Regions from separate parts of the Homo sapiens genome. Here region 2 is linked to region 1. Evidence: fine-mapped expression QTL. A gene starts in region 1. The other region holds a variant in brackets. All regions are shown on one strand. Distances are between the middles of the regions.

Region 1 (8,333 bases):
CCTTCCTATCAGCAGACAGTGATGTTTGCTTAGTGCCTTTCAGTGGAAAAGTTTGAGGGAGTTCCTGACCAATTCCCATGCATCTTCCTCAACTCTCCACTGTACTCTTTTTCCTTCACACTGCAAGTTCCTTTATGAGTCTTCCATATTCAACTAAGGAGGGCAGGGATAGAGACTGACTCGTCCTGAGCCTCCGGGGCCCCAGCCCTGCCCTGACACCCAAGAGGAACCCAGTGAAGTTTCTGCTGAATGAACAAATGACTGGGTAGAGGACCAGGGCTATTTCACCTCATGACATTTCTAGGGCTGTGTCAGATACCTCTGAACCTAAACTAATTCTACACAGCAGCCAGAAGGATTCTGGGAAAACCTAAGTCAGGCCTCGTCACTCTTCCACTAGGAGCCCTCCAAGGCTCCTATTTCAGTCTAAGAAAAGCCAACGTCCTCACCGTGGCCTTCAAGACTCTGCAGGATCTGCCCCCTCTCACTGGGCTCCAGTCACACTGGTTCCTTGCTGCTACTCTCACTCCAAGCACGTCCCAACTCAAAGCTTGGTACCTGCCAGCCTCTCTGCCTGGGAAGTCCTGTCCCTCCATGCCAACAGTTCCTTCCTTCCTCCCTTCTGATCTTTGCTGAAACATCCCCTTCTCGGTGAGGCTGTCCCTGGCCTTCTACCTAAAATTCAACCTCCCTGTAGCATCTAGCACTTTGTATTCCCTTCTCCACTTGTTTTTTCTGCGTGGCACTTCTCATCTTCCAAAATAACTACATATTTTACATATTTATTGGTCTCCCTGACCTGAAAGTCAGCCTCAAGGGAACAGGAGTGGTTTGTTTCTTCTCAGCTGTCTCCCTGAGGCCAAGGACAGTTACTCAGCACTCAATCAATAATATTTGTTAAACAAATGAATGATTGAGTGAATGAATGAAAAACCAAATGAACTGTGGGGATGTAGGAAATCCAGAAAGAAAGGATCTTGGCTCATGAACATCTGAAAGGTCCAGGGCCTGGAAGTGGCCATGGACAGGAAGCAGAGCAAAGCCTCGTCCTCAAATTAAGATGTCTTAGGCTGGGCTCGGTGGCTCATGCCTATAATCCCAATACTTTGGGAGGCTAAGGCAAGTGGATCACTTGAGTTCATGAGTTCAAGATCAGCCTGGGTAACACGGTGAAACCCCATCTCTACCAAAAAATACAAAAATGAGCCAGGAATAGTGGTGTGCACCTGTAATTCCAGCTACTTGGGAGGCTGAGGTGGGAGGATGGCTTGAGCCTGGGAGGCAGAGGTTGCAGTGAGCCGAGACTGTACCACTGCACTCTAGCCTAGATGACAGAGCCAGACTTTGTCAAAAAAAAAAAAAAAAAAAAAAGAAAGAAAGAAGACAGAAAGAAAGAAAGAGAAAAAAAGAAAAGAAAGAAAATTAAGGAGAACACATTAAGACGGCTTGACCTAAGTTTAGCAAGTGTGCATCCTTTCTATTAATAACCTGCCTAACATAGGCTGTAGTGAAGATGTCCCACACTGGAGGAAATCCCTTAATCCTCTAAGCCCCTCGCTGTGGAGGGCACAGCTTCCCCGGGACAGGGTCAGGGGGCAGGGGGAGGGGGGAGAACCCTGGTTTGGGATGCAAGTATCTCCAGCTGCAAGTCCTAGGCCTCCCGTTGGTGACACTAGAGTAGTGTCTCAACCAGAGGTCACAGAGCACTGGGTCCCTCCTGCACCAGAGACCTGCTGTGGCTTTCCCTGAAGCTCCAGGGAGAAGCCAGATGTGAAATTGAACTGTATGAATATCCTCTTGCAGATGGCCGGCTTCCAAATGTCCCAGCAATTGCAGCCACAGCTGATACTTGGAGTACCCACTATAGCCAGCCACTCTCCTAAGGGGCAGTATCTGTACCAGCTGGCTTAATCCCTAGACAATCCTATGACAATCACTATTGTCATTCCCATTTTACAGAAATAACCACCACACTGAGAGGTGAAGACATTTCCCCAAGGTGGCACAGTTTGTAAGTCACATAGCAGGAACTTGAACTCGGGCAGTCTGACTCCAGAATCCCAATATTGGGTGCAATATAAAATAAAAACTCACATTCACTCACCATTTACCAGATATAGGTGATGAGCCGAGCACTGTAATTCATTTTTTCACATCATTCTCATGGCTACCCTGTGATAAGGGTATTTGATAGTGACCAGAGAAGTTGGCAGACTCTCCCAGGTCAAAGTGGAATGGTGGAACAAAGTGAGAGGAATTGGGTCTAGAACCCAGTTCTGCCCCCAGAGGCTATAAAGAGAGCCCAATCCCTGGTCCCTGCTGTGTAAGAATTCTGGGGAGGACAGAGACCCGCAGCCATGACTTATGCCTCCCCCAGCACTAACACCCAGCCCTCGCTCTGCCCATAGAAGGCACTCAGCAAATGGCTGTTGGGTTGATTTAGCAGGAATAGGAGGTGCAGGAACAAGGGGCTAGGGCTAAGCTGAGTGTCCTTAAGAAGACCTTGACCTCTCTGGGCCTCATTTTTTTCTCAGGCTCTGGGGCACTGTGCTGTGGGGGTTAAGAGGATGGACTCTCCTGTCAGAGCCGGAACTGGTCACCAGTTTTACCATTAATCCACCATGACAGGCCACGTGGTGCAGTGGTTAGGAATGCAGACTGGAGTCAGAATGCTGGGGCTCCTTCCCAGCTTCTCCTCTCCATAGCTGTGTGACCTTGGGGAACTCACCTCACCTCTCTGGGCTTCCCCATCTACAAATGGGATATTAATGCCTACCTTCTATGCTTACCTACATCATAGCCAGTGTTAGCGACTGTGATTCTCCACAGAACGACTCAGAGCAAACTTTGAGAAGTTAATTCAGGGCCGGGCGCGGAGGCTCACGCCTGTAATCCCAAGCCGAGGCAGCCGGATCACGAGGTCAGGAGATCAAGACATCCTGGCCAACATGGTGAAACCCACTCTCTACTAAAAATACAAAAATTAGCTGGGCGTGGTGGTGTATGCCTGTAATCCCAGCTACTTGGGAGGCTGAGGCAGGAGAATTGCTTGAACCAGGGAGCTGGAGGTTGCAGTGAGCGGGATCACGCCACTGCACTCCAGCCTGGCGACAGAGTGATCATCTCAAAAAAAAGAAAAAAAAAAGAAAAGATAATTCAGGTCACGGCCCCGCTCCAGCTTAAAACCCTTCTCCAGCTTGCCGTGGCATTTGCAATAAAATCTGAACTTCTCACCACGGCTTACAAAGCCCTGCACACCTCTCTGCCATCCCTTTGACCTCAGTGCCCTGCCCGCTGTGCTCTGGCCATCCTGGCCTGGGCCACACAAACTCATTCCTGCCTGAGGGCCTTTGCACTGTTGCTGCCACCTGGAAGCTCTTTCTCCAGATCTCAGCAAGACCCGCTTCTGAGGAAGTTCTCAGCTCCAAAACGTCCTACTCCAGAAAACCCACCCTGACCACCTACCCAAGGAACCCACGCCCTTGGCCTTCACGCCACCCCATTTTATGGGTTCCACAACACCTTATCTCTCTCTGAAGTTATTCATAAACGTGTTTACCCAGCTGCTCAATCAGAATGCCACCTCCATGAGAGAGAGGTTTATTGTCTATTTTGTTCATTGCTGAAGCTCTAACCCCTATATCAATGTCTGGCACGTAGTAGGTGCTCACTCAAGAATCAACGACTGATCCTTCGAGGCTTCTGAATGCAGAGAGAAAAATAGAGCCCTAGTCCCGAGTGGCAACAAAGCCATTCCCCACGCGTCCCACCCCAATGCTGTGTTAGAATCTCCTTCTCTGTCCCCTCTCTGCAGAATCACGTCCAGAGGAGGGGGTTCGTCTGTTTTGTTCGCAGTTTCGTTCGCGACAGCGTCCCCAGGCCCACAACAGCGCCTGGGGCACAACCGCGCTCAGCGAATCGATGAACTGCTTTGCTTCTTTCGGAGCCTCCATTTCTTCATCTGCAGACCAGGAACAGCTGCACTTGCCTGGGGCTGTCGGATCAGGGCGCCCGGGAGAGTGCCTGGGCCCGAGTGGGCGCTGCAGCAAGTGAGGGGCCACTTTTCCGGGGCAGAAAGGAAGATGGAAGGAAGCGCGACCGAGCCCCGTCCCAGCCCCCGCCGCAGGCCTGCAGTCTCGGGCTGGCCACCCGAGAGGCGGTATCCGGCCGGGGCGGCCCTGGGGGAGCCAGGGGGCGCGCACTCTTAGGGGAGCGTGGGGGCGGTGTCTACACCCTGGGAAGGGGTCGGGCTTCCAGCAGGCAGCGCCCGATCGGGACTTACCCATGGCGAGCGGGACTCGGCGGCGTGCTGGGGGCGCTGAGGGGCCGGGCGCGCATCCCCCGCCGGAGTCCCCAACGCCGCTGCCGCCGGACAAACTTTCCGGCCCGCCCCCGCCTCTGTCCCTCCTGCCCTGCCCTCCCGCGCGCAGCGCCGCCAACGCCACGTCGGCCAGCCAGGCCCCGAGGCCTGGAGGCGGGACGGAGGGGAGCCCAGGACCGCCCCCGGCCGCCCCAGGCCTGGCAAGGACCCCCTCCCTCGCCCACTGTCCTCCCGGGGGCCCCCACCCGCCATCTCCCGGGTCCCCTTCGTTGGTAGTCCTCCCCTGGGGGGGACACACCAGCAAGCCATCCTCCCTGGTAGAAGACCCCACACGCACTGTCTTCCCCTGGCCTCTTTGCAGGGAAGAGGTGCCCCAATCACTGGTCCACACTTGTCTGGCCTCCCCAGCGTGCGCACACACACAACACACACAACACACACATCTACACCGAGTGAGACACTCGCGCATACCCACTGGAGCCGCTCACTCTCTCATGGATTCATCCCTCATTCACTCCACGCTTGGGTTTGGACACCACCACATACCAGGCACTACGCTAGGCTTGGGATGGGCCGAAGAACAAAACAGAACAGGTCTTTTGTTTACCTTCTAGGAGGGGAAGAGTTTACATTCTAGGAGGGGAAGACGAAAAAGAAGTAACTAAAGGATCCTGAGAAATATCAGCTAGTGATAAAGACTAGGCAGAAAGTTAAACTACGGTGGTGGGTTAGGCAGACACAGGTGGCTGCTTTAGCTTGCTGATCTGAGAAGAGGATATCTGAGCAGAGATCCGGCATTCCCCGCAGGGGGAACAGCAAAGGCAAAGGCCCCGGGGTGGGAAGGAGCTTATGGGGTACAAAAAACGCAGAAATGAAGCCAGAGTGTCTGGAGCAGAGGAGAAGACAGGGAGAGAGGAGGGAGATGGGAGCTAAGGGAGGGGCTTTGGTGGGCCAGGGTCAGGAATGTAGATTTCAACCCCATCAGCAGGACAGATAACTGGGGAGTTCTAACTGGTTAAGGGCCAGAATACTCAGCCTTCCCACCTGGGAGGCTGTTGCAAGGTGAGAAGTTGGTTTGGGCTCATGTCACTGTGGTGAGGTTGGAGAAAAGTAGGCAGATCACATATATATGCTCCGTAAGAACTTACAGACTGGAAGAGGGGCAGCTTGTGGCTGGGAAAGGAGATCCAGAGTTCTGTCTTGGCTGTGTGACATTTGAGGTGCTCAGCAGGCATCCACGTGGAAATAGGTGGGCAGTTGGCTATGAGCCTGGGATTCAGGAAAGGGGTAGGCTGGGGACACTGCCACTAATGCTCACTCAGGCAAAAATGCACGTACAAGCCCAGCACTCACATGGGCGCAGCCTTATCCAGCCTCTCAATACGTGTTCACAGATAGGCACCTTTGCATGTGCACCAGTGGCTGTACCCTCACCAGTCAAAGTCACAGCGACCCCTACCGTACAGGTGGATACACAGGCATTCTTCCATGCTGAAGGCACAAGCAGGTATCTCAGCAAAGATGACAGCATCCATAAGACCTCTGAACCAGGGGATCCTTGCACAGTTTCAAAAATAATAATAGCTGGGGCAGTTTGAAAACATGGCTCCAGAATTCGTTGTTCCTTCCCTTGAAATAAAAGTGGGCTTGTGACTGGTTTGATCAGTAGCCTGCAGAGTGACACTGTGTAACTTCTGAGGCTGGGTCACTGGAATACTGGTGCCTGGATCCCTGAGCCTTCATATAAAAAGTCTGATTACACTGAGACCCTCCTGGTATTCGTGGCCTAGTGGCATCCTCTTCTCTTCTAGATGTCACTAGAAGTATCACTTAGCAACGTCTAATGAATAGAAGACGGCAAATATGGTGGATGTCATTTTCGGATTAGGTTATAAATGATTTCTGTGTTGTTCAGTTTCGAGATCTCTCACTTGTTTGCTCTGATGAAGCAATTGAGCTGCCATGTTTTGAGCTTCCCAATGGAGAGGCCCACATGGAGCGAAGCTATTGAATCACATAGCTAATGCCTCCAGGCAATAACCAGTGAGGGACTAAAGCCCTTAAATCAACAGCCCCTAAGGAGCTAAATCTGGCCAACAAGCTTGTGGTGAGCTTGGACGTGAATCTTCCCTCAGCCTAGCCTGGAGGTGACTCTAGTCCTGGCTGACACCTTGATTTCAACCTTGCAAGATTCTGAGCTCTTGCTCAGAGCTAGAATTTAGCTATGCTAAATTCTTTATCCTAGAAGACATGAGATAATAAATGTTTGTTTCTTTAAGCCACTAAATTTGGGGAATAATTTGTTATACAGTGATAAATAACGAATACACATTTCATTATTGTTCATTATCTTGATTAGAAAAAGGAGATGGATCATCTCCAGGAGAAAGTAGAGATTAGGTTATATCTACATGGACACTAGGAGGCTTATCACCCTTGGCCTTGAATCTCTCCTCTGACCCTTGAACAGTTAACCATCAGAAGCTGAGAAATCGGTGAGGATGGTATCTAACTTTAATTTAATGTGATCTTAAGGGACTGAAAATGCCTTTGCAAAGATTAGAGAGCAAGAGAAATCTGGCATGGTTGACTCCATCTTGACTCTGACCTCACCGGCTACCTGTCTTTGCTTATTTCTGGGTATAGGCCAAGCCAACCACGAGAGGAGTTTAGTTTATATTTTAACTTTGAAGCAAGGATGATAATAATCACTCCCTAAAACTAACCCCCTCCTTGCTCAGGGACTGAAGCTACCTTTGTAAAATTAATGAAAGTCCATGAGGTTAGGATTATGGGATGGGCCTGAATTATGCTAAAATGCAGGTGTAGTTTTGGTAATTCCTTACTGCTCAGGAGTCATGTGGCCAGAGGTCACAAGATTTGTAATTTCCCCAATTGCTCCTGTAGATAACATCACTATTGTAGAACCTAAGATTCATCTTTTGAGATGTTTTTCATACTTTCACATCCTGGCAACCAACTGACCCCGCCTGGACTAAAGATTCATGAGTGGACTGGTCCTGTGGCTCCCATCTAGAGGCAGACTCAGTGCACGGGGCTGTTTTCCATATCTCGATGATTTCACCCCCCCAACCAATCAGCAGCACCCATTCCCTATCCCCCTGCTCACCAAAGTATTTATAAAAACCCTGGTTTCTGAAGTTTTCAGAAAGACTGATTTGAGGAATAACTCCACCTAGCCCACTTGGCTAGCTCTGCATTAATAAAACTCTTTCTCTACTGCAATACTGCAGTCTCAGTGAACTGGTTTTGTCTGTGCAGCGAGCAGGAAGAACCCATTCAGCAATTATAGGACTTTGCTGAAAAGCCCTTCTCACCAATGTCTGTCTCTTAAGTGTTGTAAACCTCTCACTCACTATTTTAAAAGCCTATTCATTAGCTTGGGGTCCATCATGGAAAAAGGAGTTTCTCTGATTTAAAAAAAAAATTCCCTTAAAAAGCCACTTTAATAAACTTCCTTTTATAGATGGCCTCAGAACCCAAGTTGATTTCTTGGGGAGTGACACAGAATTTAGATAAAATACAGGATAAAATACAGGATGCCCAGTTAAATGTGAATTTCAGATAAACATGGGACATAATTTTACTACAAAATTATTTGATGTCTATCTGAAATTCGCGTTTAACTGGGCATACTATTTGTTGCTGTTTTTGCTAAATCTGGCAACCTTACCAGCCATTGTTTTGGACTAAGCTCCTGCACTAGTCCCCAACAGAACAGACTGAAAATCAAAATGGAGTCACCCATGCTAGAGTTCCAGGTCACTGAACCTAAGCTAAGTTGTTATCTGACCTTTCCAGAAATCAGGAGAGAGACAAGCAGCCAGCTTAAATCTTCAATCAGTGTGATGATGAAGTTCCCTCTGCTTTCATCCTTACACAAAAAAGGTAGCCTGAAGTAACCTGATGTTAACCAGTTATTTTTCTATTGCTCTAAAGTAACTAATATACTTTTTGTTCTTTGTTTCTGCTTTCTTCAGTCCTTCTCTGT
Region 2 (8,333 bases), 160 kb after region 1:
GAAAACCAGCAGAGAGATATGAGGTCACCTGCCCAAGGTCTCATAGCTAGGGAGGGACAGAGCTGAGATTTGAAGCGAGGTACAAGTCAGGCTAAAGACAGGAAGGGGGCTGGGGAAGGAGACCAGAGCCACTGCTCCCAGTACTTGGCAGGGGTCTGATTATCACCTGTGAGTCCCAAGAGCAGGGATCAGGCTCCCCTTGGGGCACACAACTATGGAGTGGGAGGGAAAGGGAAGCTGTATGGTTTCTCTGTGCCTCAGTTTCCTTCTCTGTAAAATGGGGCTAATTCTACCTTCCTGCTACCAAGATTAGAGACATCGCTTGGAAAAGGCTGTCTTTTCCTCTTCCCACACCTTCCACCCGCTCTTGCTTGTGGGCAGAGGATGAGGCAGCTTGCCCAACCCTCTGGGAGGTGGGCCCCGAAAAGGGCGGGACAAGGCAGCCAGGAGAGCTTCATTAAAGAGTGGAAAAGCAGAAGTGGCAGGGATTCCCAAGTCCCAGCGATTCCCCCACTTCCTCTCCACCTGCCACAGCTGCCAGCGACCGCCCGCCTGAAACCACTGCCATTTGGACAGCATGCCAGGCCACCCAGGAGCAGCTGAGCAACTTGTCAAGACCGGGTAGGTCTGGGGACTTTGGACACTGAGGGCTACAGGTGAGAAAACAGTCAGCCATTGGGGGTGATGGATATGAACCCAAATCTTCAGCTCTGCCATTCCTTGGCTATGTGACCTTAGGCAAATCCTCAGTTCTCTGTGAGCCTCAGTTCCCCATCTGTGAAATGGAAGTAATAATGACATCTACAAGACTGTTGCCAGAATTGAATGAGAAAACACATGCTTAGTACTTGGCACCTGCTTGGCTCAGAGGAAGCACTCACTAAACAGCAGCTAGTTTCCTTGCCATTTTCAATACCCCGTGCAGGAATTGTCATCCAATATGACTTAGGACTGGCTTTCAATCCTTAAAATTGTTTTTATTATTAGCTATTATTCCAAAAGCTACTGTGTTCCAAATATTAATTATATAGTAGAAGGGGGTGTTTAGTCCCAAATTCAAATGCCTTCGGGAGCTGGGAAGGGGTTGCACCTGTGGAAGGCCACCTGGGTGTGCAGACGGACCCGTTCATTGATCAGCAGGATGCAGTCTGCAGGGCTGCTCCCCTGTCAAAGGTGGGTAGTGGATACTCAGCTCCAGCTACCTGTTGCAAAGGTGGGAGCTCTAACCCAGATCTTCTTATCTCTCAAGAAAAGCTGGAAACCCAGATTTTAATGTGAAACTTCCTTATTTCCAAATGGGGGCAGCTTACACACACACACACACACACAGAGTGGGCCACAATAAGGCACATTTGCATATGATTCAGCCTTTAGGGCTTCAAGGTTGTGACCTTCACTCCAGCCCCACAGGCCTCACTGCATCTCAGCTTCCCACTGTTCTGGTTCTCCCAACTCCCTATTTCCCGATGGTCAGAGCACAGGACCTTTGCACACGCTGTTCCTTCTGTCAGGGATGTCCAACTCCCTTCTTCACCCACAAACTGACACTTGTCCTTCCACCCCCAGCTGGAATGTCACCTCTTCCAGGGAGCCTTCCTGACTCCCAGGTAAAACTGGGTCACTCTCCATCTATCCCACCCCAGTCCAGGCCCAGGCATACTATGCTCAGAATTCTTTGTTAATGAACTTAAACTCTAATGGTCTATTTAAGTCTCCTCAATTAGACTGTGAACTCCTTTAGTGGGACCAGGACTTAATTCATCTTTGTGTCCACAGGGGTCAGCACAGAGCCTGGGCACAGAGGAGACTCGAGTGAAACATTTACATCGTTGACATAAGTATCATCAGAGTAACAAGTGGTGCAGTTTTATAGGATCCCTCTTCTGTGCCAGACCCTGTGTAAACTTCTTTACATGGATTATTTCATTTTATTGTCCCAGAAGCCCTGTGACAAAGGTTTCTGTATTAGTCAGGACTCATTGAGTTGCAAGTGACAGATTGATCTTACACTGCCTGTAGAAAAACAGACATCTCCTAGTGTGTGGTCCGGCATAGATTTCGGCTTCAGGCATTTCTGGATCCAGGTCCTCCAACAAGGCCACTGGGACTCTCTGTCTGTTTCCTAACACTGTTTTCCTTGTGTTGCCTTCATCCCAGGCCGACTCATACTACATGGTGGTCCCCAAGGCTTGAGGCATCTTCCTACCAGCTTAGCTCTCAAGGCAACAAAGGGCAGTTTTTTTGTCGTTGCAGCAAAATCCTGAGGAAAGCTCTATTGGTCCATCTCCGGTCAGGTGCAATCCCTGCACCAGTCACGGTGGCCAGGGGATCAGAGGTACTTGGATCAACTAGACCCAGTCACATGCTTATCCTTCAAGCTGTTGATGGTGGAGCAAGTCAGCAGCTTTGCCTGTAACCAACACAGTGACAGCCTCCCCACCACCCTCCCTGCCCTTTATAACCATATTCCCGTATAACCTTTCTGCCTGCTCTCACTTAAGATAATGTATGATCTCCAACCTCAAGTGGGCCTCAGTGTTGCCCAGCACATATGTTATTGCCCCAGTTCGTTTGTTCTCCCACTTTCCTGGGCAACCATTTTGTACTTTCTTCTTCCTCTTCAAGCATCCATCACCTCCGCCAGCATCTTACCTTCTCTGCTGACCTTGCTTCCTGCCAACCTGAGCAAACAGAAGCAATCGGTCATGCTACTCTTAATGAATAGTTTTGGAGCACTCACAACATGGCAGACACTATTGTAGGCACTTGGGACATATCAGTGACCAAAACGGACAAAGTCCCTGCTCCGGTGGAGTTGACTCTAGTGGTAGGTAATAGCTGATGTGATACTTACCATGTGCCAGAAACAAAGTGACCCCAGGAGGTGCATACTTTTATTGCACCATTTTACAGATGAGACAGCTGAGACACAGAAAGGTTGTGATATGTACCCAAGTTCACATAGCTGGCAAGTGGTGGAGCAGAAATTTGAGCCCAGGCAGTCCAGAGGTCATGCCCTTAACATTACTCTGCTCTGCGTATATCAGAGGATACTTTTCACAGGTGCATACACGCTGCCTGTTCATTCGCCATCATCTGTACCTATTTCCTCTGCTTTCCCACCTGCTATTAAGGATGAACGACCCCTGCTCTATTCTAAGACCAGCCCCACCTTGCATGTTCTCAGTCTCACTCTCTGCCTCCACCCCTACAGGTGTCACTCCAGGGAGTCTCCCCTTTGTCAATGTCTCCCCTCTCGATGAGATCTCCCACCTGCAAACATGCTATAGATTTCCTCCCTTTACATGAATTCTCTTGGTCCAATTTCCCATAGCTACCAGCCACTGCTTCATCTCCCTGCTGTTTTAGTGTAGAAATTACCGGAAAGAGTTGTCTGTATCTGTGTTTCCTATTCTTCTCCTTCCCGTCTCTCCTGGACCCAGTCTAGTTGGATTTTGGCCCCAAAAGCCACCGAACTCTCCCTGCCAAGGTCAACAGTGACCTCTAAGCGGCTAATAGGCATTGCTCAGTCCTCATCATTCTTGACCTGTTGGCTGCATTTGACGTACTTGATCACTCCTTTCTCCTTGAAACATTTTGTTTATTTGGCTTCCTAAGCACCACATTGGTTTCTCAGTCTCTTTTGCTGGTTCCTCCTTATCTAAGAGCCCCTAACCTTGGAGC[G/A]CCTTGAGGCATGTCCTTGGATGTCTTTCCTCCCCAGTGACACACTCTCTTGAGGAATCTCATGGTGCACATGGCTTTAGGTAGGGATATAAAGTTGGGAGACATCTAATAATCAGACTCCCAATGTTATAACTCCAGCCTGACCTCCCCTCTGAATTCCTGACTTCTATTTCCAACCACGTCGTCAAAAGCTCCACGGAATGGCTCAACTGAATCTCAAATTTAAGAGTTCTGAACTGAATTCCTCCTCTCTCCCCCTCCACTCAAACCTGTTTTGACCACAGAGTTCTCATCTCAGGAAATGACACCTTGGTGCTTCCAGTTGCTCAGACACAAAAGCACCTCGTCATCCTTGACTCCCCTCTTTCTCTCACACCCCACAACCAATCAGCCTCTGCAAATCTTGTTGACTCTGCCAACAAAATGTGTTCAGAATCCAAGCTTTCCTTACTACTCCTCTGCCATCGCTCTTAACATAGTGCAAGCCCCACGAAGGTAGGGACTTCTGTTTTTTTCATTCCTGTTTCTCCAATGGTTAACACAAAGTCGTTGCTTGATAAACACTTGTTGAATGAATAAATATAAGGATGATAGAATATAAAAGTCCCTCACAGGCCAACTAGTTCACCCTCCTCACCCCTAAATTATAGAGGAGACCCTGAAGTTCAGAAAGAATAGAAGGTCCAGAATCATACAGCAAGCCACCAAGACTATTAATTCAAGTGAAATCGTTTCTCTTCTTCTCTCTCCTCTTACTCATTCTCTCTCTTTCACCTGTGCTTCTCGCTCCATGACTCTTTCATTCTCTTGGGCCAGTTGCCTTCACAAAACTGTAATAATGGACTCAAACAGGGCAGACTTTCATCCTCACATCCTCAGGTACTGCATGGGAATTGGGCTCTTCCCTGACAGTTCCAGCGAGAGTAATCCTGGGGAAGGCTCTGATTGGTTCAGCTTGTGTCACGTGGGTATACAGTGACTTACTCTGATTGGTCCACCTGGGTAACTACAAGGGTGGAGTCTGTTAGCAGAGCCTGGTGATGGGTATGTGGGGCAGGGGCAGTGGACAGACACCCACCCACCCACCTCCTGATAGAGATGCCCTTCAATTTCCTTGTGTGCAGGTGGAGGTCCTGGCACTTGGGGTTCTGGAAGGCCCTTGCCCCACTGCAGGCTGCCTGGGACGCCTTCTCCCAGCCTGTTCCAGCCAGCTGTGGCCAGCTGCTGACCCAGCTCCTCCTGTGTGCCTCCCTGGCTGCTGCTGCTGCAGGTCTGGTTTATCACTGGCTGGCATCCTTGCTGCTTTATCCTCCTGGACCTTCAGCCATGGTTGCCACTGTCTGTGGCCTCCTGGTCTTCCTGAGCCTGGGCCTGGTACCCCCAGTCCGCTGCCTGTTTGCACTCAGCGTGCCCACCCTGGGTATGGAGCAGGGCCGCCGGCTGCTCCTGTCCTACAGCACTGCCACCCTGGCCATTGCTGTGGTGCCCAACGTCCTGGCCAACGTGGGTGCGGCCGGGCAGGTGCTGAGGTGTGTCACCGAGGGCTCCCTGGAGAGTCTCCTCAATACCACTCACCAGCTGCATGCAGCATCCAGGGCTCTGGGCCCCACAGGCCAGGCAGGCAGCCGGGGCCTGACATTTGAGGCCCAGGACAATGGCTCTGCCTTCTACCTTCACATGCTCAGGGTCACTCAGCAGGTCCTGGAGGATTTCTCTGGCCTGGAGTCCCTGGCCCGGGCAGCAGCGCTAGGGACCCAGCGAGTGGTCACAGGGCTGTTTATGTTGGGCCTCCTGGTGGAGTCGGCATGGTACCTCCATTGCTACCTGACAGACCTGCGGTTTGACAATATCTACGCCACTCAACAGCTGACCCAGCGGTTGGCACAGGCCCAGGCTACACACCTCCTGGCCCCTCCACCCACCTGGCTGCTCCAGGCGGCTCAGCTGAGGCTGTCACAGGAGGAGCTGTTGAGTTGTCTTCTAAGGCTGGGGCTGCTTGCCCTGCTCCTCGTGGCCACGGCTGTGGCGGTGGCCACAGACCATGTAGCCTTCCTCCTGGCACAGGCTACTGTGGACTGGGCTCAGAAGTTGCCAACTGTGCCCATCACGCTCACGGTCAAGTATGATGTAAGTGTGATGATGGGAAAAGGGAAGGGAGTCATTGTTTTGAGGGCAGGGGGAGAATCTGTTAAACCCTTGACTTGTGATGAAATTTGACTTGCCTCCAAGAAACAGCCCTTGAATCATCCATGGGGCCCCATACCATGGGCAGAGGGACTCATCGGATACCCACAACAGCTCTAGGAAGTGGTTTCTATTTTCACTTCCTATTGCAGTTGAGGATGCTGAAACCCAGACACCTTAAAATAACTTGCATCCAAGGTCACCCTTCACAAGTGGCAGCTTGTCCTAGCCTCATTTTCCACATTTGTACAAATTGAATCGATCCTCCTAATCCTAAAAGGCTATTGTGTCTTACAATGTGGTATTGTCTTAAAGTACCTAGTAAGCTCCATGGCACATAAGAGATTATTTAATAAAGAGTGGCTATTATTAATAGCTTACATCTGTCTATGTCAGACTGGAGGAGGACTTTGGAATGGCCTTGATCAGGAGGCATCCAACTATAGCCTTCAGGACAAATCCAATGGCTTCTTGGTTTTGTAAATAAAGCTTTTTTAGAACACAGCCATGCCATTTGTCAATATATTGTCTGTGGCTGCCCTACAAAGGCAAAGTTGAGTAATTGCAACAGAGACTGTATGTCCTGCAAAGCCTGAAATATTTGCTATTTTAATAGTGATATAGAAAATATTTACTATCGACTTATAATCGGATATATTACTATCAGATCAAGAGTTGTGTTTTTCGATCCTTTCTTTTGCCACGGATCTTTTTATTTTTAATTTTTAGTAGTGAGGTCTCACACAAAAGTCCATTGCATAAAACATATCAAAGTGTCAAACTTCGAGCTAATAATATTAACAGTTTATATTTATCAAGTACTTATTACATATTAAGAAAGTGCTTTTCAGACTGCACAAAATCAATTTAATCAATTTAAGGAGTCATAAATAGTGTTTTTAATGAAATAGAATCAACTGGAAAATTATAAGATTACATCTTAGGCAATAAGGGAGTGTATGGTTTTTGAATATTTTCTTCAATTACAAAACAATCTCTGCTTTGAAGGTACTGTAAAATGCATTTCTTTTCTTTCCTTTTTTGAGACAGGGTTTCACTCTGTTGCCCATGCCAGAATGCAGTGGTGCAGTGGTGCAATCACAGCTCACTGTAACCTTGACCTCCTGGCTCAAACGAGCCTCCCACTTCACCTACCTCTGCCTTCCAAGTAGCTGAGACTACAGGCATGCACCACCACCACCCAGTTAATTTTTAATATTTTTTTTAGAGATGGTGTCCCACTATGTGGCTCAGGCTGGTCTCAGACTCCTGGGCTCAAGCATTCCTCTCACCTCAGCCTCCCAAAGTGTTGGGATTACAGGCATAAGCCACCATGCCTGGCCTGTAAAATGCATTTCTTACCATAGGTCACAGTAAAGAAATGTGTCAGGCAATGTTCTAAGCATGTTCCCTGATTTACTCATTTTCACCAAATCTCAGATAGTCATCAATTGCAAGTCACACCATTACTTTATGTATCCTTAGGGCAGAAAATGCTACCAATTCAACCTTGACACAATGCTTTCTTATCATTTAGAATTTTTATTGTATTTGTATAAAATAGTTCACTTATTATTTAACATAGGTTTATTTTGCCATATCTTTCTCGCGTATACATAAAAAGAAAAATAGGGGGCTGGGCATGGAGGCTCATGCCTATCTATAATCCCAGCACTTTGGGAGGCCGAGGTGGGTGGATCACCTGAGGTCAGGAGTTCAAGACCAGCCTGGCCAACAACATGGTGAAACCCCATCTCTACTGAAAATACAAAAATTAGCCAGGCATGGTGGTGTGTGCCTGTAATCCCAGCTACTCAGGAGGCTGAGGTGAGATAATCGCTTGAACCTGGGAGGCAAAGTTTGCAGTGAATTGAGATTGCTCCACTGCACTCCAACCTGAGCCAGCAAGACTCCAAAAAAAAAAAAAGGAAGAAACGAAGAAAGAAAGAAAGAAAGAAAGAAAGGAAAGAGAAAGAGAGAAAGAAAGAGAAAGAGAGAAAGAAAAGAAAGAAGGAAAGAAAGAAAGAAAGAAAGAAAAAGAAAGGAAGGAAGGAAGAAAGAAAAAAGGAAGGAATGAGAGAGAGAGGGAGGGACGAAGGAAGGAAGGGAGGAAGGAAGGAAGGGAGGGAGGGGAAGTAATCTGATGGTTTTCCTAAAACATTCAATCTGACTTTTCTGAATGACTCTGGCCGAGGAGTCAGTCTCTGAGGCTTTTCCTCCAATATCATTCTCTGTGCCTTCCAGAGCCCCGGTGATGCCCCACCATTGTTTCCAGCATTTTCTTGCAAGCTGCGGGCCCTCACTCAGCAAGTTTTGAGGCTGGCACTCTCTGATCCTCTGGGAAAGCATAAATTGTACAGGCCCACTCATTGCTTTCACATTATTTCATCTTTTCTGAAAGCTTTGGGAGTTTCTCCTGCATTCATTTGAACCATTTGGGGTGTGGCAAGCTATCCTTCTGCACC

The links. PIP is the estimated chance that this variant, and not a neighbour inherited with it, causes the effect. A credible set is the group of variants that fine-mapping cannot tell apart.
Region 2: its variant is the best candidate, but not a certain one, in a credible set for the expression of SLC2A10 in adrenal gland (GTEx, PIP 0.86).

The regions. Positions count from the first base shown.
Region 1 is chr20:46,705,690-46,714,022 of GRCh38, reverse strand. It overlaps SLC2A10 (solute carrier family 2 member 10), which reads right to left and starts at 4,374. Exons shown (of 5, transcript NM_030777.4): 1 at 4,283-4,374. The coding sequence starts at 4,286.
Region 2 is chr20:46,542,805-46,551,137 of GRCh38, reverse strand. It overlaps OCSTAMP (osteoclast stimulatory transmembrane protein), which reads left to right and starts at 484. Exons shown (of 3, transcript NM_080721.3): 1 at 484-621; 2 at 4,809-5,811. The coding sequence starts at 578. RefSeq lists enhancers at 6,051-6,120, 5,327-6,178. The variant G/A (reference allele first, on the strand shown) is at 3,685.